Regions from separate parts of the Homo sapiens genome. Here region 2 is linked to region 1. Evidence: fine-mapped expression QTL. A gene starts in region 1. The other region holds a variant in brackets. All regions are shown on one strand. Distances are from middle to middle.

What was found. PIP is the estimated chance that this variant, and not a neighbour inherited with it, causes the effect.
Region 2: its variant is fine-mapped to the expression of SLC22A10 in esophagus muscle (GTEx, PIP above 0.99).

What each region holds. Positions count from the first base shown.
Region 1 is chr11:63,283,524-63,296,334 of GRCh38, reverse strand. It overlaps SLC22A10 (solute carrier family 22 member 10 (gene/pseudogene)), which reads right to left and starts at 6,432. Exons shown (of 10, transcript NM_001039752.4): 1 at 5,768-6,432; 2 at 4,692-4,795. The coding sequence starts at 6,169.
Region 2 is chr11:63,306,437-63,319,247 of GRCh38, reverse strand. SLC22A10 (solute carrier family 22 member 10 (gene/pseudogene)) reads right to left here. Exons shown (of 10, transcript NM_001039752.4): 10 at 7,465-8,241. The coding sequence ends at 8,214. Among named protein-coding and RNA genes, the nearest start is that of SLC22A10, 23 kb to the right of the region's middle. The variant A/G (reference allele first, on the strand shown) is at 6,950.

The sequences.
Region 1 (12,811 bases):
CAATGCAGCGAGGGGGTGGAGACACACCTGTGGAGATTGGAAGTCCAGGAGGGCAGCATGGAGGCACCCAGCCTCTGTAGCAGAAGAACCCACCAGTCTCCATTGCCACCACAAACAGCAACAGTTCTTACCATAGGAGAATTTCATAGTCCGCACAAGTCCTGAGTCCAAAAGAGAGCTGCCGAAAATTTACCCAACTGCATTGCCCAGATTAGGGGCACAAAGTATTATTCCCCAGGTCACGCCTATCCCTTGTGAGTCAAGCTGTTGCAGCATGGCACCATCTTGAGACCAGAGCCACCTCTGGAGTGCATCCTGTCCTGGGGGCCAGTAGCCACTGCACCTCTCCAGCACTGGAACTCTATCTTCATTCCATGAAGCCCACATCAGTGACTGAACACCACAACCCCAGCAGTGCAGAGTCTGGGCTTAGGATCAGTGGTGGCTCTGGTCCTACAAAGCAGAGAAACAAATCCCACCACCCTCATTTTCATCTGGAAAAACAATCTGGCAATTCTGCCCAGGGTGAACCCACTGTTGAGCCAGCTAAACTGCTGCATACCCTTCCCCAAGGGGGAAAGACCCTGGAACTCTATGCAACTAACAGCCTTCCAGCCAGTAAAGCCTGCTCCTATGCTCCTCTTTCTAGAACCTGAGGATAGCTCCATGATGCTCCACCCCCTGCAGACAAGCCCTTGGTATGCCCAATGGCCCTGCACCTGCAATCAGGATGTCAGAACAACTGAAAGCTTCGCTGGCACTCAGACCTCCAGGCTGGCTGAGTAGCTGTGTGCCCATGTCCTGGGTCTGAGAAAACAGCCCTGTGGGGGACTACTGGCAGGCTTGCCACCAGCCTGGCAGAGCAACCTCATGTATGTGTTCCTGGCCAGAATAATAGCTCCATAAGTCTAACTTGGCTTAACTTGGCCAAATCACCACGTGCATGCATGCACCCCACATCTGAGAAACAGCCTGGCAAGCCGACCCCCAGCAAAGCCTTACCACAACCATAACCAACTCTTGCAGCCTATGCCACTAAGACACTAGCACATGTCACTAGCCTAGGTTAAAGCTGAAGAAACTACACAGAAAGAATACTACTGTGCCCACCTAGAACCAAAGCCTGACACACCCCATAAAACTGACGACACAAGACCCATTCATACAAATAAGCCTTTCCTTATGAAATCTCTTCATAAAATTGTAAGAGGCAACCTTTCCACTCAACCAAAGAAATCAATGTAGAGACAAATCAAACATTACAAAGGAAAGAAATTTGACACATTTAAAGGACCACAATAATTTTCCTGTAACCGGCCCCAATTATAGACAAATATACAAAATGCCAGAAAATGAATTCAAAATAACAATATTAAAGAAACTCAGGGAGATACAAGAAACTATAGACAATTCAATATAATTACAAAAACAATACATTATTTAAATGAAAAATTTAACAAAGACATAGATATAAAAAAGAACCAAACAGAAATCTTACAGTTGAATATTCAATGAATGAAGTAAAAAAAAATGCAACTGACAGCTTCAACCATAGACTGGAACAAGCAGAAATAATTTCTGAGCTTAAAGACAGTTTGCTAAAAATAATAGAGGCAGATGAAAGAAAAAAGAATTACAAAGAATGAAGAAAACCTACCGAATGTATAAACACCAGTAAGTGAATAAATATTTGCATTATGAGAATTCCAGAAGAAGGGAAGTGAAACGGTTAGAAAATATATTTTATGATACTTTATGATATGATAGCTGAAAATTTCCCAAGTCTTGGGATAAGCATGGATATCTTGGTACAAGAAGCTCAAAGAATGCCAAATAGAGTCAACTCAAACAGGTCCCCTAGCAGGCACATTATAGTCAAATTTTCAAAAAAGCAAAGATAAAGAAAAAGTACTAAAAGCAGCAAGAAGAAAGCATTGAGTCACACATAAAGGAATTCCTATTAGACTAACAGCAAATTTCTGAGTGGAAACCTTGGAGGGCAGGAGAAAATTGGATAATATATCCAAAGTCCTGAAAGAAAAAATTGTCAGAAAAGAATATTATACCCAGAAAAATTCTTCTATGCTTCAGAAATGAAAGAACTATAAAATCTTTCACAGACAAGTGAAAACTAAAGGAATTACCACCACAGAAACAGCCAAAAACATTCTCCAGGGAGTCTTACATCTTGAAGTAGAGAGATGGCAGTTACCATAATGAAAGCAAGTAAAACTATAAAGTACTAGGAGAACCAATAAACAAATGATAAAGACAGAAAGAGGAATCAAATCTAATCACCTCAGAAAAACACCCAACAAGCCTATCAACCAAAATAATAATAATAATAATAATAATAATAATAATAATAAATAAATAAATAAGTAATAATTTTAAAAAGCACCCAGGACCAAACAGAATCACAGCTGAATTCTACTAGAAGTACAAAGAAGATCTGGCAACATCCCTGCTGAAACTATTCCAAAAAATTAGGGAGGAGGGTCTCCTCCCTAACTCATTCTATTAGGCCAGCTTCATCCTGATACCAAAACCTGGCAGAGATTACAAAAACAACAACAACAACAAAAAAAAAAACACAAAAACTTCAGGCCAATATCTTTGGTGAATATCAATGCAAAAATCCTCAACAAAATACTGGCAAACCAAATCCAGCAGCATATCAGAAAAATTATCCACCATGATCAAGTATGCTTTATCCCTGGGATGCAAGGTTGGTTCAATATTTGTAAATAAATATATGTGATTCATCACATAAACTCAACTAAAGACAAAGACCACACAATTATCTAAATAAATGAAGAAAAGGCTTTTGATAAAATTCAACAACCTTTCATGTTAAAAACTCTCAATAAAGTAGGTATTGAAGGAACATGCCTCAAAAAAGTAAGATCCATGTATGACAAACCCACAACCAACATCTTATTGAATAAGCAAAAGCTCAAAGCATTCGTCTTGAAAACTGGCACAAGACACCACTCCAATTCAGCACAGTATTGGAAGTCCTAACTAGGGCAATCAAGCAGGAGTAAGAAATAAAGAGCATCCAAATAGGAAGAGAGGAAGTCAAACTATCCCTGTTTGCAGATGATATGATACTGTATCTATAAAACCCCATAGTCTCAGCCCAAAAGCTTTTTAAGCTGATAAACAACTTCAGCAAGTCTCAGGATAGAATATCAACGTGCAAAAATCGCTAACATTCTTATACACCAATAACAGTCAAGCTGAGAGCCAAATAAGGAAAGCAATGCCATTCGCAATTGCCACAAAAGAATAAAATACCTAGGAATACAGCTAACTAGGGAGGTGAAAGATCTCTACAAGGAGAATTACAAAACACTACTCAAAAAAAAAAAAAATCAAAGATGACACACACAAAAATGGAAAAGCATTCCATGCTTATAGGTAGAAAGAGTCCATGTTATAAAAATGGCTATACTGCCCTGATATGATTTGGCTGTGTCCCCACCCAAATCTCATCTTGAATTGTAGTTCCCATAATCCCCATGTGTTATGAGAGGGACCTGGTGAGAGGTAATTGAATCATGAAGGCATTATCTCCATGCTGGTTTCACTATAGTGAGTGAGTTCTCATGAGATCTGATAGTTTTATAAGGGGCTTTTACCCCCTTCACCCTCCACTTCTCTTTCCTGCTACCATGTGAAGAAGAATGTGTTTACTTCCCCTTCCACCATGATTGTAAGTTTCCTGGGGTCTCCCCAGTCATGCTGAACTGTGAGTCAATTAATCCTCTTTTCTTTATAAATTACCTAGCCTCAGGCAGTTCTTCACAGCAGGGTGAGAGTGGACTAATACATGCCCAAAGCAATTTATAGATTTAATACTATTCCTATTAAACTACCATTGAGATTCTTCACAGAGCTAAAAACTATTATTTTAAAATTCATATTGTTATGGTTTGGCTCTGTGTCCCCAACCAAATCTCACGTTGAATTGTAATAATCCCCATGTGTCATGGGAGGGAGCCAGTGGGAGGTAATTGAATCATGGGGGCTGGTTTTTCCCATGATGCTCTCCTGGTAGTGAGTAAGTCTCATGAGATCTGATGGTTTTATAAAGGGGAGTTCCCTGCACATGCTTTCTTGCCTGCCACCATTCAAGACATGAATTTGCTCCTCATTCACCTTCCACCAAAATTGTGAGGCCTCCCAAGCCATGTGGAACTGTGAGTTGATTAAACCTCTTTCTTTTATAAATTACCGAGTCCCAGGTATGTCTTTATTAGCAGCATGAGAATAGACTAATACTCCTACTAATTACAGTGGGGTAATTATGATAATGACAACCAGGCTGGGGAGCCCACAAGCATTTAGCTCACAGAGTCCAGGAGGGACTTAACACAATATCCCTAGCCAAGGTCTACACACCATTTCATATATTTGTATCTTCAAGGAGGATGAATTCTCTATTTTGATATTTTTGTATTCAGTATCCTATACAGAGATGCTGTTCAGAGATCTCTGTGGCAACAAAATGGCACTCACTAAACTCACTGTAATTCATTTCTGTATCTAACTCTCTGGGGAACAGAGCAGCACCAACAGTGTAAATTGCATATTGTAACTCAATAACACTTCTTTGTGAAAAAAATTAATTGTAAGCTGATAAAAACACTGCAGAGTAATGATAACCCTGATCTGGAGACACTCACCTGTCTGAGACATGGCCACCTATGATGCCTCCCACCAGCATTCCAGTCAGAAGTAGGAATTGAACCACTGATTTCAGTGACTGATAATCACATACCAGGTCCCACTGGAAGAGAAGGAAGCCAATACAGCATAGCTTCACAGCAGCTTTTGACTTCTCATTGTTCACTTGCTGCAATAGCTTTCAGTGGACACACTCTCTAGCCTCTTTTTACTACATTTTCTTACCTATACCATTCAAGTCTTGGCTTAAGCATGGATTTCTCTGGAAATCCTCACACAAAACCTTCCAGGTTATGTTAATGTCTGTCTTTATATTCATTCAGCACTGCATACCTCAGTGGTTCTCAATTTTTGTTACACATTAAACACATTAAGGAGACTTTTTAAACCATTGATGCTAGTATGAAATCCACTCTGATTTGCTTCTGTAACATGTAGCCAAAGCAGGCAGATTTTAAAAATAACACAGATGTTTCCAATTTGCAACTTAGGCTGAGAACAAGTGACCAGGAAGAATATTTTTCTAATCATTAGTCTTCTCTTCAAGCTAGTTTTGTGATAGCTGTATTTATATCTAGTTGGTTGAGTTCATTGCCTCAAATTCAATGTAAGTGCCTGACAATTAAAAAATAAGTAGCCAGGTGCGGTGGCTCACATCTGCAATCCCAGGACTTTCGGGTGGATCACCTGAGGTCAGGAGTTTGAGATCTGTCTGGCCAACATGGTGAAACCTTGTCTCCACTAAAAATACAAAGAAAAAAAATTAGCTGAGTGTCATGATGCATGTCTGTAATCCCAGCTACTTCAGAGGCTGAGGCAGGAGAATTGTTTGAACCTCAGAGGTGGAGGTTGCAGTGAGCTGAGATCTCACTATTGCACTCCAGCCTGGGCAACAAGAGTCAAGCTCCATCTCAAAAAAAAAAAAAAAAAAAAAAAAAAGAGCAATCACTATTTGCCAAAAGAGTGTCTGAGTGCTGACTACACTATCTACACAATAACTAGAGGCTTAAAGCATGTTTATTTTCTTCTAAACACCTGGATTGTGTATCCAGAACAGGTTAACAGGACCCTTTACCTTAGTCACAATGGTCGAAGGGAAGTAGCTTTGATCATATACCCAGCCATCCACACAGGGTTCTGTGTCTGCCTCACTTGTGCTGTGGATAGTCCCATTCAGGTGAAGAAGCTGCCACTGGGGATGGACAAAGCGACGACACTTCTCTGGCCTCAGATTTGAGTCTAGTGGGATAGAGATTCTCAAGAGGGCATCTTCACTGAGGATTCCAGTTTCATTACCAGATCCAGTATTATTGTCCAGCATGTGGACCCAGCAACGATGACCAGGAATGGCTGCAGCAAAGTTCTCTAGCAGTATATGAGGGATTAATAACATGAGAGAGGGAAGAATAAAAACCAGATGAAGCATCTGAAATCTCCCAAGGCCTCCAACTTGACTCAAGAGCTCCTCAAAGGCCATTGATTGTGAACACGTGACCCCCAAGAGGAGGCACAATGGCTTTACGGAGATAAGTTCAAAGGGAGAAAATATTTCCTTTTATTAATTCAAATTAAGCTTGTATTGATCCTCGCATCAATTTCTCATCCATGGGCCCGGACTCACCAGTGCAATACAGCCGTAGTGGAAAGAGCTTCCTCAGTTCTTTTGCTATCAGGAGGTAGATGTTATTTTGTAGTCATAGAGATCATTATTTCATAGAGATACTTCTAGCTGTTGACAATAAAATCCGTTTAAAGGTTTACTCTCTCCAAATATGTTTGTCCTCAAGTGACTCATGAAATTTACATTGGACTTTGGCATGTACATGTTCTCTAAATAAGCTAAAAGAAATCGGTTAAACAGTGTTGTTATTTCTAGGAAGTGAAATTTGAGAGACACAAAAGTAAACTGCTTTATAATTTTTCCATGAAAAGAGCAGAAAGTCAGGGTTTTTCTCCTTTAGTACTGAATTTAGATTAAAATGATGAATAAATGCAAATCCCAATTACCATGTTTTGCTTTTTAAAGCAAATTGGAATGTGATGCCATTACTATCTTTTGTTAACTGATATTATGCTTCAGGTTAAATCACATGAGGAACTCACATAACTTTAAATTATATGAAATATAAATAGAAGAGAAAGGCAGTGTTCAGCTCATATAGGAGTTTATTTCCTTGGGCTTATTTATTCATTTATATATAGCACATTGGAAGATCTTTTCCATGTTAGTTTTGGGAATCCAGATAAATTGTTTATTTTATTGTTATAAACTATGCCTCTATCTCTAGTGATGCTCCTCATTTTGAATTATATATTTTTTAACGTTAACATGGCTATGCCAGGTTTCTTATAGTTTGCATCAGATAACTTTCCCATGTTTTAGATTTTTAATGAAATGTTTTTTGAGATTATTATAGATTTACATGCAGTTGCAAGAAATAACACAAGGAGTAATCATATACTCATCACCCTGTTTCCTCTAATGGTAATATTTTACAAAACTGTAGTATAATATTGTATCAACATCAAGATGCTAGTATGATACAATGTAGTATAATACCAGGATCTTGATACTGATACAATCTACTGATTTTATTAATATTTCCCTTGTTGGTTTATCTGTATCCGTGTATGCATATAGTACTATACAATTTTATGTGTGTAATTTAGTGTGCCCATCATCACAATCAAGATAGTGAACAGTTACATCTCCACAGATATCCCTCCTTCTAGGAGAATAATATGGTATATATCCTTCTCAGGTTGGCTTTTGAAAAATCAGAAACTCTACAGATATTCATCTAAGTTGCTGTATATATGAATACTTTGTTCCTTTTTATTGCTGAATATTATTCCATAGAATGTATATACAATTGTTTGTTTTTTTAAAATCAATGTTATTGTGCATATTTAAGATAAGCAACATGATGTTATAAGATACATATGTATATATATAGATAAAGATATATAGAGATATATAAAATGCTAACTATAGTGGAACCAATTAACCTATCAATCATCTCACAAATGGGAAAAGTTACCCATTCCCCCCTTTGGCAAAAGCACATATAATCTATTCATTTATCAAAAACACAAGATACTGTTATTAATTACAGTTCTCCTGTTGTACATGAGATACTTCAACTTGTTCATCCTACATATAGGCTACTTTGTATCCTTTGACTTACATCTCCCCACTTCTTCCCACCCCTCACACCCCAGCCCTTGTAAACACCATTCCATTCCCTATCTCTATGTACTTGACCATACTTGACCTTATTATTTTTTTAGTTTTTTTTTATTATTATACTTTAAGTCTGGGATACATGTGCAGAACGTGCAGTTTTGTTACATAGCTATACATGTGCCATGGTGATTTGCTACACCCATCAACCCATCATCTACATTAGGTATTTCTCCTAATGCTATCCCTCCCCTAGCCTCCCACCCCCAGACAAGCCCCAGTGTGTGATATTCCCCTCCCTGCATCCATGTGTTCTCACTGTTCAACTCCCACTTATGAGTGAGAATGTGAAGTGTTTGGTTTTCTGTTCTTGTGTCAGTTTGCTGAGAAGGATGGTTTCCAGCTTCATCCATGTCCCTACAAAGACATGAACTCATCTTTTTTATGGCTGCATAGTATTCCATGGTGTATATGTGCCACATTTTCTTTATCCAGTCTATCATTGATGGGCATTTGGGTTAGTTCCAAGTCTTTGCTATTGTGAACAGTGCTGCAATAAACATATGTGTGCATGTGTCTTTATGGTAGAATAATTTATAATCCTTTGGGTATATACCCAGTAACAGGATTGCTGGGTCAAATGGTATTTCTAGTTCTAGATCCTTGAGGAGTCACCACACTGTCTTCCACAATGGTTGAACTAATTTACACTCCCACCAACACCTAAAAGCGTTCCTATTTCTCCACATCCTCTTCAGCATCTGATGTTTCCTGACTTTTTAATGATCTCCATTCTAACAGGCATGAGATGGTATCTCATTGTCTTTGTGATTTGCATTTCTCTAATGACCAGTGATGATGAGCTTTTTTTCATACATTTGTTGGCTACATAAATGTCTTCTTTTGGGAAGTGTCTGTTCATATCCTTTGCCCACTTTTTGATGGGGGTTTTTTTTTTCTTGTAAATTTTTAAAGTTCTTTGTAGATTCTGGATATTAGCCCTTTGTCAGATGGATAGATTGCAAAAATTTTCTCCCATTCCGTAGGTTGCCTGTTCACTCTGATGATTGTTTCCTTTGCTATGCAGAAGCTCTTTAGTTTAATTAGATCCCATTTGTCAATTTTCGCTTTTGTTGCCATGGCTTTTGGTGTTTTAGTTATGAAGTCTTTGCCCATGCCTATGTCCAGAATGGTATTGCTTAGGTTTTCTTCTAGGGTTTTTATGGTTTTAGGTTTTATGTTAAAGTCTTTAATTCATCTTGAGTTAATTTTTGTATAAAGTGTAAGGAAGGGGTCCAGTTTCAGTTTTCTGCATATGGCTAGCCAGTTTTCCCAACACCATTTATTACATAGGGAATCCTTTCCCCATTGCTTGTTTTTGTCAGATTTGTCAAAGGTCAGATAGTTGTAGATGTGTGGCATTATTTCTGAGGGCTCTGTTCTATTTCATTGGTCTATATATCTGTTTTGGTACCAGTACCATGCTGTTTTGGTTACTGTAGCCTTGTAGTATAGTTTGAAGTCAGGTAGTGTGATGCCTCCAGCTTTGTTCTTTTGGCTTAGGATTGTCTTGGCTATGCGGGCTGTTTTTTGGCTCCATATGAAATTTAAAGTATTTTTTTTTCAGTTCTGTGAAGAAAGCCAATGGTAGCTTGACGGAGATAGTATTGAATCTATAAATTACTTTGGGCAGTATGGCCATTTTCACAATATTGTTTCTTCATATCCATGAGCATGGAATGCTTTTCCATTTGTTTGTATACTCTCTTATTTCCTTGAGCAGTGGCTTTCTGTTCTCCTTGAAGAGGTCCTTCACATCCCTTGTAAGTTGGATTCCTAGGTATTTTATTCTGTTTGTAGCAATTGTGAATGGGAGTTCACTCATGATTTGGCTGTCTGTTATTGGTGTATAGGAATGCTTGTGATTTTTGCACATTGATTTTGTATCCTGAGACTTGGTGAAGTTGCTTATCAGCTTAAGGAGATTTTGGGTTGAGACTGGGTTTCCTAAATATACAATCATGTCATCTGCAAACAGAGACAATTTGACTTCCTCTTTTCCTCATTTAATACCCTTTCTTTCTTTCTTTGGCCTGATTTCCCTGGCCAGAACTTCCAATACTATGTTGAATAGGAGTGGTGAGAGAGGGCATCCTTGTCTTATGCCAGTTTTCAAAGGAACTGTTTTCAGCTTTTGCCCATTCAGTATGATATTGGCTGTGGGTTTGTCATAAGTAGCTTTTATTATTTTGAGATACGTTCAACCAATGCCAAGTTTATTTAGAGTTTTTAGCATGAAGGGGTGTTGAATTTTGTCGAAGGCCTTTTCTGCACCTCTTGAGATAATCACGTGGTTTTTGTCATTGGTTCTGTTTATGTGATGGATTAGATTTATTGATTTGTGTATATTGAACCAGCCTTGCATCCCAGGGATGAAGCTGACTTCGTAGTGGTGGATAAGCTTTTTGATGTGCTGCTGGATTCTGTTTGCCATTATTTTATTGAGGATTTTCACATCAATATTCATCAGAGATATTGGCCTGAAATTTTCTTTTTTTGTTGTTGTTGTGTCTCTTCCCGGATTGGTATCAGGATGATGCTAGCCTCATAAAATCAGTTAGGGAGGACTCCCTCTTTTTCTATATTTTGGAACAGTTTCAGTAGGAATGGTACCAGCTCCTTTTTGTACCTCTGGCAGAATTTGGCTGTGAATCCATCTGGTCCTGGACTTTTTTTGGTAGGTAGACTATTAATTACTGCCTCAATTTCAGAACTTGTTATTGGTCTATTCAGGGATTCGACTTCTTCCTGGTTTAGTCTTGGGATGGTGTATGTATCCAGGAATTTATCCATTTCTTCTGGATTTTCTAATTTATTTGCGTAGAGGTGTTTATAGTATTCTCTGATGGTAGTTTGTATTTCTGTGGGATTAGTGGTGATATCGCCTTTATCATTTTTTATTGCATCTATTTGATTCTTCTCTCTTTTCTTTATTTGTCTGGTTAGTGGTCTATCTATTTTGCTGATCTTTTCAAAAAACCAGCTCCTGGATTCATTGATTTTTTGAAGGGTTTTTCATGTCTCTATCTCCTTCAATTCTCCCTGATTTTAGTTATCTCTTGTCTTCTGGTAGCTTTTGAGTTTGTTTGCTCTTGCTTCTCTAGTTCTTTTAATTGTGATGTTAAGGTGTTGATTTTAGATCTTTCTCACTTTCTCTTGTGGGCATTTAGTGCAATAAATTTCCCTCTATATACTGATTTAAAATGTGTCCCAGAGATTCTGGTACATTTTGTCTTTGTTCTCATTGGTTTCAAAGAACATCTTTATTTCTGCCTTCTTTTCATTATTCACTCAGTAGTCATTCAGGAGGAGATTGTTCAGTTTCCATGTAGTTCTGCGGTTTTGAGTGAGTTTCTTAATCCTGAGTTCTAATTTGATTGCACTGTGGTCTGAGAGACTGTTTGTTAAGATTTCCATTCTTTTACATTTGCTGAGGAGTGTTTTACTTCCAATTGTGTGGTCAATTTTAGAATAAATGCAATGTGGTGCTGAGAAGAGTGTATCTTCTGTTGATTTGGGGTGGAGAGGTCTGTAGATGTCAATTAGGTCTACTTGGTCTAGAGCTGAGTTGAAGTCCTTGCTATCCTTGTTAATTTTGTCTCATTGATCTGTCTAATATTGACAGTGGGGTGTTAAATTCTCCCGCTATTATTGTGTGGGAGTCTAATTGACTTAGCTATTCTATGGCCTGTTTCTTCCCACATACATTTTAGAATTAAGATGTTTATATCTAAAAAATAACTTCCTGGAATTTTCATAAGAATTACATGAAACCTATAAAATCAATTTTTTACTACATCCTATTACATTTAACCTACCTATGTCCTTATATTTAAATCTACCACTTGTAGACAGCATTTAGATGGGACACCTATTCAATGCTGCCTTAAAACTGTGACTTTTAATTGGTATATTTAGTCCCTTTAATTGCAGTATTTAGTCCATTAAATTACATTTAATGTAATTCTCCATACTTTTGGAAATAAACCTGCTGCTCAGGTCTTATAAAGTTCTGTTAAAAGGCTTATAAAGTTAAAAATAAGCCTACTTAGTAAATAAAAATCACCAAATATTACCAAATATTTGTGTCCATAAGATTTCATAAAAGAATATGTAAATAGCAGCTGCATTTACAAAACATAAACTGAAAAAAAGCCATATGTCCAATAACAACATCCATCCAGCAATATGGATAAGTTGTTAACATCCATATCCAAATGTAATGTTACTCAGCAATAAAAAGAAATAGAATGCTGATAAAAACAAAAGCATGCATTAATCTCACATATACTATATTGAAAAAAGAAACTGTATGCAAAAATACAAAGTTTATAATTTCCATTTACATGATGTTCTAGAACAAGTATGATTAAGTCCTAGTGAAAAAAATATAGAATTGGCTTCTAGAAGGCTGATTAAAGGCATCTGGAACTCGCCATCTCCACAAAGAAGAACCAAAATAACAAGTAGATAATAACACCTCAAATAGATCATCTAAAAGGAAACACAAGAATTAAGCCAAGGAGTGACAGGAAACATCTAGGGAAGAATGAAGAAGGAAGCAGGGCAGTCTGCTTGATTAGCATTGTCTGTCAGCTAAGAGAGCCTCCGCAGTGTAGGAAAAGGGTAAGTTAGAGATCCCCAGTGGTTCACATTTCCTCCACAGACTCCTGTAGTCCTAGCCATGGGATAGCACCTAGAGCACTGTGGGTTTTCAGACTAACATAAGGAACTGCCTGAAGACTGTGCAATGGCATTGCTCCAGAGAGGGAGGTCATGCTGCATCTCACATAACCTCCCCCTCAAGACCTAAGCGGCTACAGCATGGCATCATTGGGGGAGCCCAGCCTATGGCACCATTTGGGAAACAGCCAC
Region 2 (12,811 bases), 23 kb before region 1:
TTCACACCTCACTGCGGCCTCGACATCCCTGGTTCAAGTGATCCTCCTTTTTCACTTCACCCTCCGGAGTAGCTGGGACTACAGGGGCACACCATCATGCCTGGTTATTTTTTTTAATTTTATTATTATTATACTTTAAGTTTTAGGGTACATGTGCACAATGTGCAGGTTTGTTACATATGTATACATGTGCCATGTTGGTGTGCTGCACCCATTAACTCATTTACATTAGGTATATCCCCTAATGCTATCCTTCCCCCTCCCCACAGCCCACAACAGTCTCTGGTGTGTGACATTCCCCTTCCTGTGTCCATGTGTTCTCATTGTTCAATTCCTATCTATGAGTGAGAACATGCGGTGTTTGGTTTTTTGTCCTTGTGATAGTTTACTGAGAATGATGATTTCCAATTTCATCCATGTCCCTACAAAGGACATGAACTCATCATTTTTTATGGCTGCATAGTATTCCATGGTGTATATGTGCCATATTTTCTTAATCCAGTCGATCATTGTTGGACATTTAGGTTGGTTCCAAGTCTTTGCTACTGTGAATAGTGCCACAATAAACATACGTGTGCATGTGTCTTTATAGCAGCATGTTTTATAATCCTTTGGGTATATACCCAGTAATAGGATGGCTGGGTCAAATGGTATTTCTAGTTCTAGATCCCTGAGGAATCGCCACACTGACTTCCAAAATGGTTGAACTAGTTTACAGTCCCACCAACAGTGTAAAAGTGTTCCTATTTCTCCACATCCTCTGCAGCACCTGTTGTTTCCAGACTTTTTAATGATCGCCTTTCTAACTGGTGTGAGATGGTATCTCATTGTGGTTTTGATTTGCATTTCTCTGATGGCCAGTGATGATGAGCATTTTTTCATGTGTTTTTTGGCTGCATAAATGTCTTCTTTTGAGAAGTGTCTGTTCATATCCTTCACCCACTTTTTGATGGGGTTGTTTGTTTTTTTCTTGTAAATTTGTTTGAGTTCATTGTAGATTCTGGATATTAGCCCTTTGTCAGATGAGGAGGTTGCAAGCATTTTCTCCCATTCTGTAGGTTGCCTGTTCACTCTAATGGTAGTTTCTTTTGCTGTGCGGAAGCTCTTTAGTTTAATTAGATCCCATTTGTCAATTTTGGCTTTTGTTGCCATTGCTTTTGCTCTTTTAGACATGAAGTCCTTACCCATGCCTATGTCCTGAATGGTATTGCCTAGGTTTTCTTCTAGGGTTTTTATGGTTTTAGGTCTAACATTTAAGTCTTCAATCCATCTTGAATTAATTTTTGTATAAGGTGTAAGGAAGGGATCCAGTTTCAGCTTTCTACATACAGCTAGCCAGTTTTCCCAGCACCATTTATTAAATAGGGAATCCTTTCCCCATTGCTTGTTTTTCTCAGGTATGTCAAAGATCAGATAGTTGTAGATACGTGGCATTATTCTGAGGGCTCTGTTCTGTTCCACCGGTCTATATCTCTGTTTTGATACCAGTACTATGCTGTTTGGTGACTGTAGCCTTGCAGTAGAGTTTGAAGTCAGGTAGCATGATACCTCCAGCTTTGTTCTTTTGGCTTAGGATTGACTTGGCAATGCAGGCTCTTTTTTGGTTCCATATGAACTTGAAAGTAGTTTTTTCCAATTGTGTGAAGAAAGTCATTGGTAGCTTGATGGGGATGGCATTGAATCCATAAATTACCTTGGGCAGTATGGCCATTTTCACGATATTGATTCTTCGTACCCATGAGCATGGAATATTCTTCCATTTGTTTGTATCCTCTTATTTCATTGAGCAGTGGTTTGTAGTTCTCCTTGAAGAGGTCCCTCACATCCCTTGTAAGTTGGATTCCTAGTATTTTATTCTCTTTGAAGCAATTGTGAATGGGAGTTCACTCATGATTTGGCTCTGTTTGTCTGTTATTGGTGTATAAGAATGCTTGTGATTTTTGTACATGATTTTGTATCCTGAAACTTTGCTGAAGCTGCTTATCAGCTTCAGAAGATTTTGGGCTGAGACAATGGGGTTTTCTAGATATACAATCATGCTGTCTGCAAACAGGGACAATTTGACTTCCTCTTTTCCTAATTGAATACCCTTTATTTCCTTCTCCTGTCTGATTGACCTGGCCAGAACTTCCAACACTATGTTGAATAGGAGTGGTGAGAGAGGGCATCCCTGTCTTGTGCCAGTTTTCAAAGGGAATGCTTCCAGTTTTTGCCCATTCAGTATGATATTGGCTGTGGGTTTGTCATAGATAGCTCTTATTATTTTGAGATACCTCCCATCAATACCTAATTTATTCAGAGTTTTTAGCATGAAGCATTGTTGAATTTTGTCAAAGGCCTTTTCTGCATCTATTGAGATAATCATGTGGTTTTTGTCATTGGTTCTGCTTATATGCTGGCTTATGTTTATTGATTTGCATACATGGAACCAGTCTTGCATCCCAGGGATGAGGCCCACTTGATCATGGTGGATAAGCTTTTTGATGTGCTGCTGGATTCGGTTTGCCAGTATTTTATTGAGGATTTTTGCATCGATGTTCATCAAGGATATTGGTCTAAAATTCTCTTTTTTGGTTGTGTCTCCACCACGCTTTGGTATCAGGATGATGGCTGGCCTCATAAAATTAGTTAGGGAGGATTCCCTCTTTTTCTATTGATGGGAATAGTTTCAGAAGGAATGGTACCAGTTCTACCTCTGGTAGAATTCGGCTGTGAATCCATCTGGTCCTGGACTCTTTTTGGTTGGTAAGCTATTGATTATTGCCACAATTTCAGAGCCTGTCATTGGTCTATTCAGAGATTCAACTTCTTCCTGGTTTAGTCTTGGGAGGCTCTATGTGTCGAGGAATTTATCCATTTCTTCTAGATTTTCTAGTTTATTTGCATAGAGGTGTTTGTAGTATTCTCTGATGGTACTTTGTATTTCTGTGGGATTGGTGGTGATATCCCCTTTATCATTTTTTATTGCATCTATTTGATTCTTCTCTCTTTTTTTCTTTATTAGTCTTGCTAGCGGTCTATCAATTTTGTTGATCCTTTCAAAAAACCAGCTCCTAGATTCATTAATTTTTTGAAGGGTTTTTTGTGTCTCTATTTCCTTCAGTTCTTCTTTGATTTTAGTTTTTTCTTGCCTTCTGCTAGCTTTTGAATGTGTTTGCTCTTGCTTTTCTAGTTATTTTAATTGTGATGTTAGGTTGTCTATTTTGGATCTTTCCTGCTTTCTCTTGTGGGCATTTAGTGCTATAAATTTCCCTCTACACACTGCTTTGAATGTGTCCCACAGATTCTGGTATGTTGTGTCTTTGTTCTCGTTGCTTTCAAAGAACATCTTTATTTCTGCCTTCATTTCATTATGTACCCAGTAGTCATTCAGGAGCAGGTTGTTCAGTTTCCATGTAGTTGAGCGGTTTTGAGTGAGTTTCTTAATCCTGAGTTCTAGTTTGATTGCACTGTGGTCTGAGAGACAATTTGTTATAATTTCTGTCCTTTTACATTTGCTGAGGATAGCTTTACTTCCAAGTATGTGGTCAATTTTGGAATAGGTGTGGTGTGGTGCTCAAAAGAATGTATATTCTGTTGATTTGGGGTGGAGAGTTCTGTAGATGTCTATTAGGTCTGCTTGGTGCAGAGCTGAGTTCAATTCCTGGATATCCTTGTTAACTTTCTGTCTCATTGATCTCTCTAATGTTGACAGTGGGGCGTTAAAGTCTCCCATTATTATTGTGTGGGAGTCTAAGTCTCTTTCTAGGTCACTCATGACTTGCTTTATGAATCTTGGTGCTCCTGTGTTGGGTGCATATATATTTAGTATAGTTAGTTAGCTCTTCTTGTTGAATTGATCCCTTTACCATTATGTAATGGCCTTCTTTGTCTCTTCTGATGTTTGTTGGTTTAAAGTCTGTTTCATCAGAGACTAGGATTGCAACCCCTGCCTTTTTTTGTTTTCCATTTGCTTGGTAGATCTTCCTCCGTCCTTTTATTTTGAGCCTATGTGTGTCTCTGCCCATGAGATGGGTTTCCTGAATATAGCACACTGATGGTTCTTGACTCTTTATCCAATTTGCCAGTCTGTGTCTTTTAATTGGAGCATTTAGTCCATTTACATTTAAAGTTAATATTGTTATGTGTGAATTTGTTCCTGTCATTATGATGTTAGCTGGTTATTTTGCTTGTTAGTTGTTGCAGTTTCTTCCTAGCCTGGATGGTCTTTATAATTTGGCATGATTTTGCAGTGGTTGGTATCGGTTGTTCCTTTCCATGTTTAGTGCTTCCTTCAGGAGCTCTTTTAGGGCAGGCCTGGTGGTGACAAAATCTCTCAGCATTTGCTTGTCTGTAAAGTATTTTATTTCTCCTTCACTTATGAAGCTTAGTTTGGCTGGATATGAAATACTGGGTTGAAAATTCTTGAAGAATGTTGAATATTGGCCCCCACTCTCTTCTGGCTTGTAGTGTTTTTGGCGACAGATCCACTGTTAGTCTGATGGGCTTCCCTTTGTGGGTAACCCGACCTTTCTCTCTGGCTGCCCTTAACATTTTTTCCTTCATTTCAACTTTGGTGAATCTGACAATTATGTGTCTTGGAGTTGCTGTTCTCGAGGGGTATCTTTGTGGCATTCTCTGTATTTCCTGAATCTGAATGTTGGCCTGCCTTGCTAGATTGGGGAAGTTCTCCTGGATAATATCCTGCAGAGTGTTTTCCAACTTGGTTCCATTCTCCCCGTCACTTTCAGGCACACCAATCAGACGTAGATTTGGTCTTTTCACATAGTCCCATGTTTCTTGGAGGCTTTGTTCATTTCTTTTTATTCTTTTTTCTCTAAACTTCCCTTCTCACTTCATTTCATTCATTTCATCTTCCATCACTGATACCCTTTCTTCCAGTTGATTGCATCAGCTTCTGAGGCTTCTGCATTCTTCACATAGTTCTTGAGCCTTGGCTTTCAGCTCCATCAGCTCCTTTAAGCACTTCTCTGTATTGGTTATTCTAGTTATACATTCATCTAAATTTTTTTCAAAGTTTTTAACTTCTTTGTCTTTGGTTTGAATTTCCTCCTGTAGCTCAGAGTAGTTTGTTCATCTGAAGCCACCTTCTCTGAACTCATCAAAGTCATACTCCATCCAGCTTTGTTCCGTTGCTGGTGAGGAACTGCGTTCCTTTGGAGGAGGAGAGGTGCTCTGCTTTCTAGAGTTTCCAGTTTTTCTGCTCTGTTTTTTCCCCATCTTTTTGGTCTTATCTACTTCTGGTCTTTGATGATGGTGATGTACAGATGGGTTTTTGGTGTGGATGTCCTTTCTGTTTGTTAATTTTCCTTCTAACAGACAGGACCCTCAGCTGCAGGTCTGTTGGAGTTTGCTAGAGGTCCACTCCAGATGCTGTTTGCCTGGGTATCAGCAGCGGTGGCTGCAGAACAGTGGATTTTCATCAACTGTGAATGCTGCTGTCTGATCGTTACTCTGGAAGTTTTGTCTCAGAGGAGTACCCAGCCATGTGAGGTGTCAGTCTGCCCCTACTGGGGGGTGCCTCCCAGTTAGGCTGCTCGGGGGTCAGGGTTCAGGGACCCACTTGAGGAGGCAGTCTGCCGGTTCTCAGATCTCCAGCTGCGTGCTGGGAGAACCACTGCTCTCTTCAAAACTGTCAGACAGGGACATTTCAGTCTGCAGAGGTTATTGCTGTCTTTTTGTTTGTCTGTGCCCTGTCCCCAGAGGTGGAGCCTACAAAGGCAGGCAGGCCTCCTTGAGCCGTGGTGGGCTCCACCCAGTTCGAGCTTCCTGTCTGCTTTGTTTACCTAAGCAAGCCTGGGCAATGGTGGGCACCCCATCCCCAGCCTCGCTGCTGCCTTGCAGTTTGATCTCAGACTGCTGTGCTAGCAATCAGTGAGATTCCGTGGGCGTGGGACCCTCTGAGCCATGTGCGGGATATAATCTCCTGGTGAGCTGTTTTTTAAGCCCATCGGAAAAGCGCAGTATTAGGGTGGGAGTGACCCAATTTTCCAGGCGCTGTCTGTCACCCATTTCTTTGACTAGGAAAGGGAACTCCCTGACCCCTTGTGCTTCCCAAGTGAGGCAGTGCCTCGCCCTGCTTCGGCTCACTCATGGTTTGCTGCACCCACTGTCCTGCGCCCACTGTCTGGCACTCCCTAGTGAGATGAACCCGGGACCTCAGATGGAAATGCAGAAATCACCCATCATCTGCGTCGCTCACGCTGGGAGCTGTAGACCGGAGCTGTTCGTATTCGGCCATCTTGGCGCTCTCTCTTTAATCTCTTAATCCTGTGATCACGTAAGCTGAGGAGGATGTATGTTGCCTCAGGACCCTGTGATGGTTGCATTAACTGCACAAGTTGTAGAGTACGTGTGTTTGAACTATATGAAATCTGGGCACCTTGAAAAAAGAACAGGATAACAGCAATGTTCAGGGAACAAGAGAGATAACCTTAAATTTTGACTGCTGTTGAGCCAGGCAGAACAGAGCCATATTTCTCTTCTTTTGAAAGCAAATGGGAGAAATATCGCTGAATTCTTTTTCTCAGCAAGGAACATCCCTGAGAAAGAGAACGCGCACCTGAGGGTGGGCCTCTAAAATGGCCCCCTTGGGTGTGACCATCTTCTATGGTTGAGACTGTAGGGATGAAATAAGCCCCAGTCTTCCATAGCGCTCCCAGGCTTATTAGGATAATGAAATTCCCGCCTAGTAAATTTTGGTCAGATCAGTTGCTCTCAAACCCTGTCTCCTGAGAAGATATTATCAATGACAATGGTGCCTGAAACTTCATTAGCAATTTTAATTTCACCCGTCTTGTGGTCCTGTGATCTCGCCCTGCCTCCATTTGCCTTGTGATATTCTATTACCTTGTGAAGTACATGATCTCTGTGACCCACACCCTATTCGAACACTCCCTCCTGTTTTGAAAATCCCTAATAAAACCTTGCTGGTTTTATGGCTCAGGGG[A/G]CATCATGGAACCTACCGACATGTGACGTCTCCCCCAGATGCCCAGCTTTGAAATTTCTCTCTTTTGTACTCCGTCCCTTTATTTCTCAAACTGGTCGATGCTTTGGGAAAGTAGAAAAGAACCTATGTGAAATATCGGGGGTGAATTTTGCCCGACATCTGGCTGAATTTCCCCCGACACCTCACCACCAGTTGTTTGTTTGTTTGAGCACCAATAAATAGCATGGGCTCCCAGAGCTTGGGGCCTTCGCAGCCTCCACACTTGTGATGGCCCCCGGTCCCACTTTCTCTCTCAAATTGTCTTTTTCTCATTCCTTTGACTCCGCCAGACTTCATCGCCCCGACGACCTGGCGTTGGGTCTGATCACCCCAACATTCAGTGTATCTTCACCCACTCTGAGAATCATTAGCACTTAAAATCTTTGCTGTTTAAAATGAAAGTTTATATTTTGGTTATATAGGTTTGCCTGAAATTACTTTACTACTATATGTACTTTCATTTATTAGTCACATCATTTGAAATATAATTTTTTAATTTATAGTTATTTTATTAAATGTACATACAGTTTGAAAATTGCTGAACCTGGCCTTTGCCCTTCAATTTGAACAATATCTTTATAATATTGTAAACTATACCAGCTATTTGTTTAAAATATACAGAGAGAAAAATTACAAAGAAAAAGTAATTAAAATTCCACCATGGAAAAGTAACTAACATCATTTAGTGACTGTATTTACAAAGAGATAGTCAATGTTATTTAGTATCTAATCTTTCCGTTTTCCAATGGCTTATTATGTCAAAAGTATCATGTATTAAATGCATTTATATAGGTCTCTATTTCTGGATTTATTTTGATTTCTGGTTGCATGTACAGTATTGTTTTGACTTTTGCAACTTTATGAATTCATCACATGGTGCTTCATACACCAGCCAGCCACATCCTAATTCTGTGATTTTCTTTTGTTTCTGAATCATCTTATCTACTAGTAATTTATTGATAAATTTGTAACTTTTTAAAGGACTTCCCAAAAATATCAGATTGCTCAAGAGATTACATGTCCCCACAAGTTAATTTTGAAATAAAATGCAAATTAATGCCATAATTATAATTGAGATTCATGTATCTAATATATGTTCTTGCTGGTTGTAGGGAAAAAAACCCTTCTGGTGTGTTCTTTTCCTGTATTTTTTTTTCTGAATTTCCCCACCAATCAGCTCATGAAGGCTTCTTAAAATTTGGTCACTTTTGTGTAGCAATCATTTTTATGCCTTTTCCTTGAGATTTTTTTTTCTGGAAAAACAAAACAAAACAGAAACAATAAATTGAAAAAGAACAAACAAAAACAAACGTTCAGAAAAAATCAAAATTACTTTGTATGTCCTCTATGCACCATTGCAAGCTGAACCTCTGACCATCAGCATTTATTTATTTATTTTTTAACTTTATTTTAGGTTTAGGGGTATATGTGCAGGATTGTTATATAGCAAACAGTGTGTCACAGGGGTTTTGTGTACATATTATTTAGTTACCCAGGTAATAAGCATAGTACTCCATAGGTTTTTTTTAATCCTTTCCCTCCTCCCAATCACCACCCTCAAGTAGGCCCCAGCATCTGTAGTTCTTTGTGTCCATGTGTTTTTGTAGTTTAGCTCCCACTTATAAGTGAGAACATATGGTATTTGGTTTTCTGTTCCTGCATTAGTTTGCCTAGAATAATGTTTTCCAGCTCCACCCATGTTGCTGCAAAGGACATGTTTTTTTTTATGGCTGCATGGTATTCCATGGTATATATGTACCACATTTTCTTTATCCAGTCTACTGTTGACGGACACTTAGGTTTGTTCCATGTCTTTGCTATTGTGAATAGTGCTGCAATAGACAAACATGTGCATGTGTCTTTATAGTAGAATGAATTATATTCCTTTGAGTATATACCCAAAAATGGGATTACACCATCAGCTATTTATAAGTCAGTATTTCTAGCGAATCACACTCACTCTGTAAAAGGTCCTGCTGCCTGTGCAGATCCAAAGGGAGTTTTGAAAATTGCTACTCTCACTTGGTCTTTTTAGACCTGTGGTAAATGGCATCTTTGAAAGTTAAGGGGTGAATTAAAAAATTTAAGAAATCTCACCATTAATTATGGGTTACATTGTGTCCCCCCACCAAAGAAAATTTATATGTTGAAGTCTTAACTCTAAATACCTCAGAATGTGACATTATTCAGAAACAGTGTTGTTGCACATGTTACTAGTTAAGGCAAGGTCATATTGGAGTAGAGTGGGACCCCTCACTCAATATGACTGGTGCCCTTATAAAAAAGGAGGAATTTGAGGCCAGACGTGGTGGCTCATGCCTATCATCCCAGCACTTTGGGAGGCCAAGACAGGTGGATCACCTGAGGTCAGGAGTTCAAGACCAGGCTGATTAACATGATGAAACCCTGTCTATACAAAAATACAAAAACTAGCCTGACATGATGGTGGGTGCCTGTAATCCCAGCTACTTGGGAGGCTGAGATGGGAGAATAGTTTGAATCCAGGAGGCAGAGGTTGCACTCCAGCCTGGGTGACAGAGCGAGACTCTATCTAAAAAAAAAAAAATAGTTGGGGGAAATTTGAATGTAGAGACACACACGTGGGGAAAAATGCCATGTGAAGATTACAGTTGGGAAACTATACCCAAGGATCTACCAGAAGTGAGAAGAGGTGTCTGGAATAGATTCTTCCCTACAGACTTCAGTGAGGTCAAGTCCTTTTCAATAAATTGATCTCAGACTTCTAGCTTCCAGAACTGTGAGACAATAAATTTCTTTTCTTAAGTGCCTAAGTTTGTGATATCTTGTTATGAAAGACATAAGAAGTGAATATGCTATTTTTATTATTTTAACATTATTTCTTGTCACCAATCAAATTAAACCCAAACAAGAATATCCCAAGAAAAATTATAATAAACTCTCAAAGAGCAGACAAATAGAGCGTCCTGAAAGCACCAAGAAAAAAAGAAGCAAATAATATATAAGGGAGATCCAATATGCCTGGAAGCAGACTTGTAGCTGAAAATGTGCAGGCCAGAAAGGATTGAGATGATATATGCAGAATGCTGAAGGAAAAAAAAAAAGACTGCTGTCCAAGAATACTCTACCCAGAAAAGCTATATTTCAGAAATGAGTTGAGATAAAAAGACTTTCCCAGGCAAAAAAAAAAAATGCTGAGGGAATTCATCACTATCTCCTACAAGAAATGCTAAATGGAGTTTTTTGAACTTAAAGAAAAGGGCATTAATGTGATTGTTACTCTAGTACTGTAATTGTGGCATGTAAACCACTTACTTATATCTTTAGTATGAAAACTAAAAAAAACCTATCAAAAATAATAACTACAATAATTTGTTAAGAGGTGGGCAAAATAAAAGTGTAAATCATGACAAAAATCAAAACGTGGAAGGAGAGTTGAATTGTACCAGATTATTCTGTTTCTTCTCTTTTCTTTGTGATCAGTGTCAAGTTGCTATCATTTAAAATAACTTGTTATAATTATATAATTTTGTATAAGCCTTGTGGTAACTGCAAAGCAAAAACCTATAATAGATATGCTAAAATTAAAACACAAAGAATCAAAATATACTACTAGAGAAAACCACAAATAAAAACTGTAAAAGTGAAAGCAGGGGAAAAAAATGTACAAAACAAGTAGAAAATCGGTAACAAAATGGCAGTGTTAAGCCCTTACCTATTAATAATTACCTTGAATGTAAATGGACTAAATTCTGCAATTAAAGACGTAGAATGATTGAATGGATTTTTTTTAACTTAATTATATGCTGCCTATAAGAGACTCATTTCAACTATAAGGACACACGTAGACTTGAATTGAACAAAAGGAAAAAGTATTTCATGCAAATGAAAACTAAAAAAGACTAGGAGTAGCTATGCTTATATCAGATAAAATAAACATTATGGTCTTGTTTCTTTTTGCAGTTTTTTTTTTTTTTTGCCAGAAACTGCAAAAAGAGATAAGACCATATATAATACTTAAGGGGTCAATACAGCAATAGGATAAAACAATTATAAATATATATGCCCCAACATCAGAGCACCTAAATATATGGAGCAAATATTAATAGACCTAAATGGAGTGATAGTCTGCATAAAATAATAATAGGAGACTTTCAGCAATGGACAGATCATCCAGATAGAAAATCAACAAAGAAATATTAAAATTAAATCACATCCTAGATCCAACATTTACAGAACATTTCATCCAACAGCTACACAAGACAAATTCTTCTCAGAAGCACACAGAACATTTTTCAGGTTAAATCCTATGTTAGGCCACAAAACAAAACTCAACAATTTTTTTTAAAATCAAAATAATTTCAAATATCTTTTCTGATCACAATGCAATAGAACTAGAAATTAGTAACAGAAAGAAAGAACTTTGGAAAACTTACAAATACATGGAAATTAAACAACATGCTCCTAAACAGTCATTGGGTGAATGAAGAAATAAAAACAAAATTTAAAAATTTCCTGAGACAAAAGAAAATGGAAACACAACATACCAAAACCTATGGGATACAGCAAAAGCCATTCTAAGAGGGAAGTTTATAGCATTAAATATCTACATCAAAAAAATTTAAAGATCTCAAATAAACAACCTGATATTAAACCTAAAGGAACTAGAAAAACAAAAACAAACTAAAACCAAAATTAGTAGAAGGAAATAATAAATATCAGAGCAAAAATAAATAAAAAAGACAAAAATACAAAAGATTAGGAAAATTTGTTTGTTTTTTGAAAAGACAAACAACATCAACAAGCCTTAGCCAGACTAAGAAAAAAGAGAGATGACTCAAATAAAATTAGAGATGGCAGAGGAGACATCACCACTGATATCACAAAAAGGATCCTTAGAGACTGTTATGAACAAATACAAACCAAAAAATTAAAAAACAGAAAAAAAAAACAAACAGAAAAATCCCTAGACACATACAAACCTACTAAGACTGAATCATGGAGAAGTAGAAAACCTCAACAGGCCAATAAAAAGATAAGGAAATTGAATCAATAATAAAAAGTCTCCCATTAAAGAAAAGCCCAGGACTTGATGCCTTCACAGGTGAATTCTACTAAACATTTAAAGAAGGAATTCTAAAATAGCAAAAATATACAAATGGAATTATATCAAACTAAAGAGGCTTTATGCCGCAAAGAAAACAATCAATGAAGTGAAGAGACAGCCTGCAGAGTGAAATAAAATATTCACAAACTACGCGTCTAACAAGGGACTAATAACTAAAACACAAGAGGAGCTCAAGAGTAAAAAACAAAGTGTGATTTGAAAATGGGCAAAAGATCTGAATAGACATTTCATAAAAGAAGACACATGAATGCCCAATAGTTATATGAAAAAATACTCAACATCACCAATCATTGATAAAAAACAAATTAAAGCCACAATGAGATGTCATCTCATTCCAATTAGAATGGCTATTACCAAAAAGTCATAAAATAGCAAATGATAGTAAAGATGTAGAGAAAGAGGAATTTATACATGATTGGTAGAAATGCAAATTAGTACAGCCATTATGGAAAACAGTATGAAGGTTCCTCAACAAATGAAAAGTTAACCACCATAATATCCAGCAATCCCACTATTGAGTATATATCCAAAGGAAATGAAATTGGTATGTCAAAGAAATATTTGCATTCCCATGTTTTACAGCACTATTCACCATAGGCAAGATATGGAATTAACCTAAGTGTCCATCAACAGATAAAGTAGATTTTGAAGAGAGAGAGATATATATATACTCAGTGGAATATACTTAATGGAATACAATTTGGCCATAAAAAAGA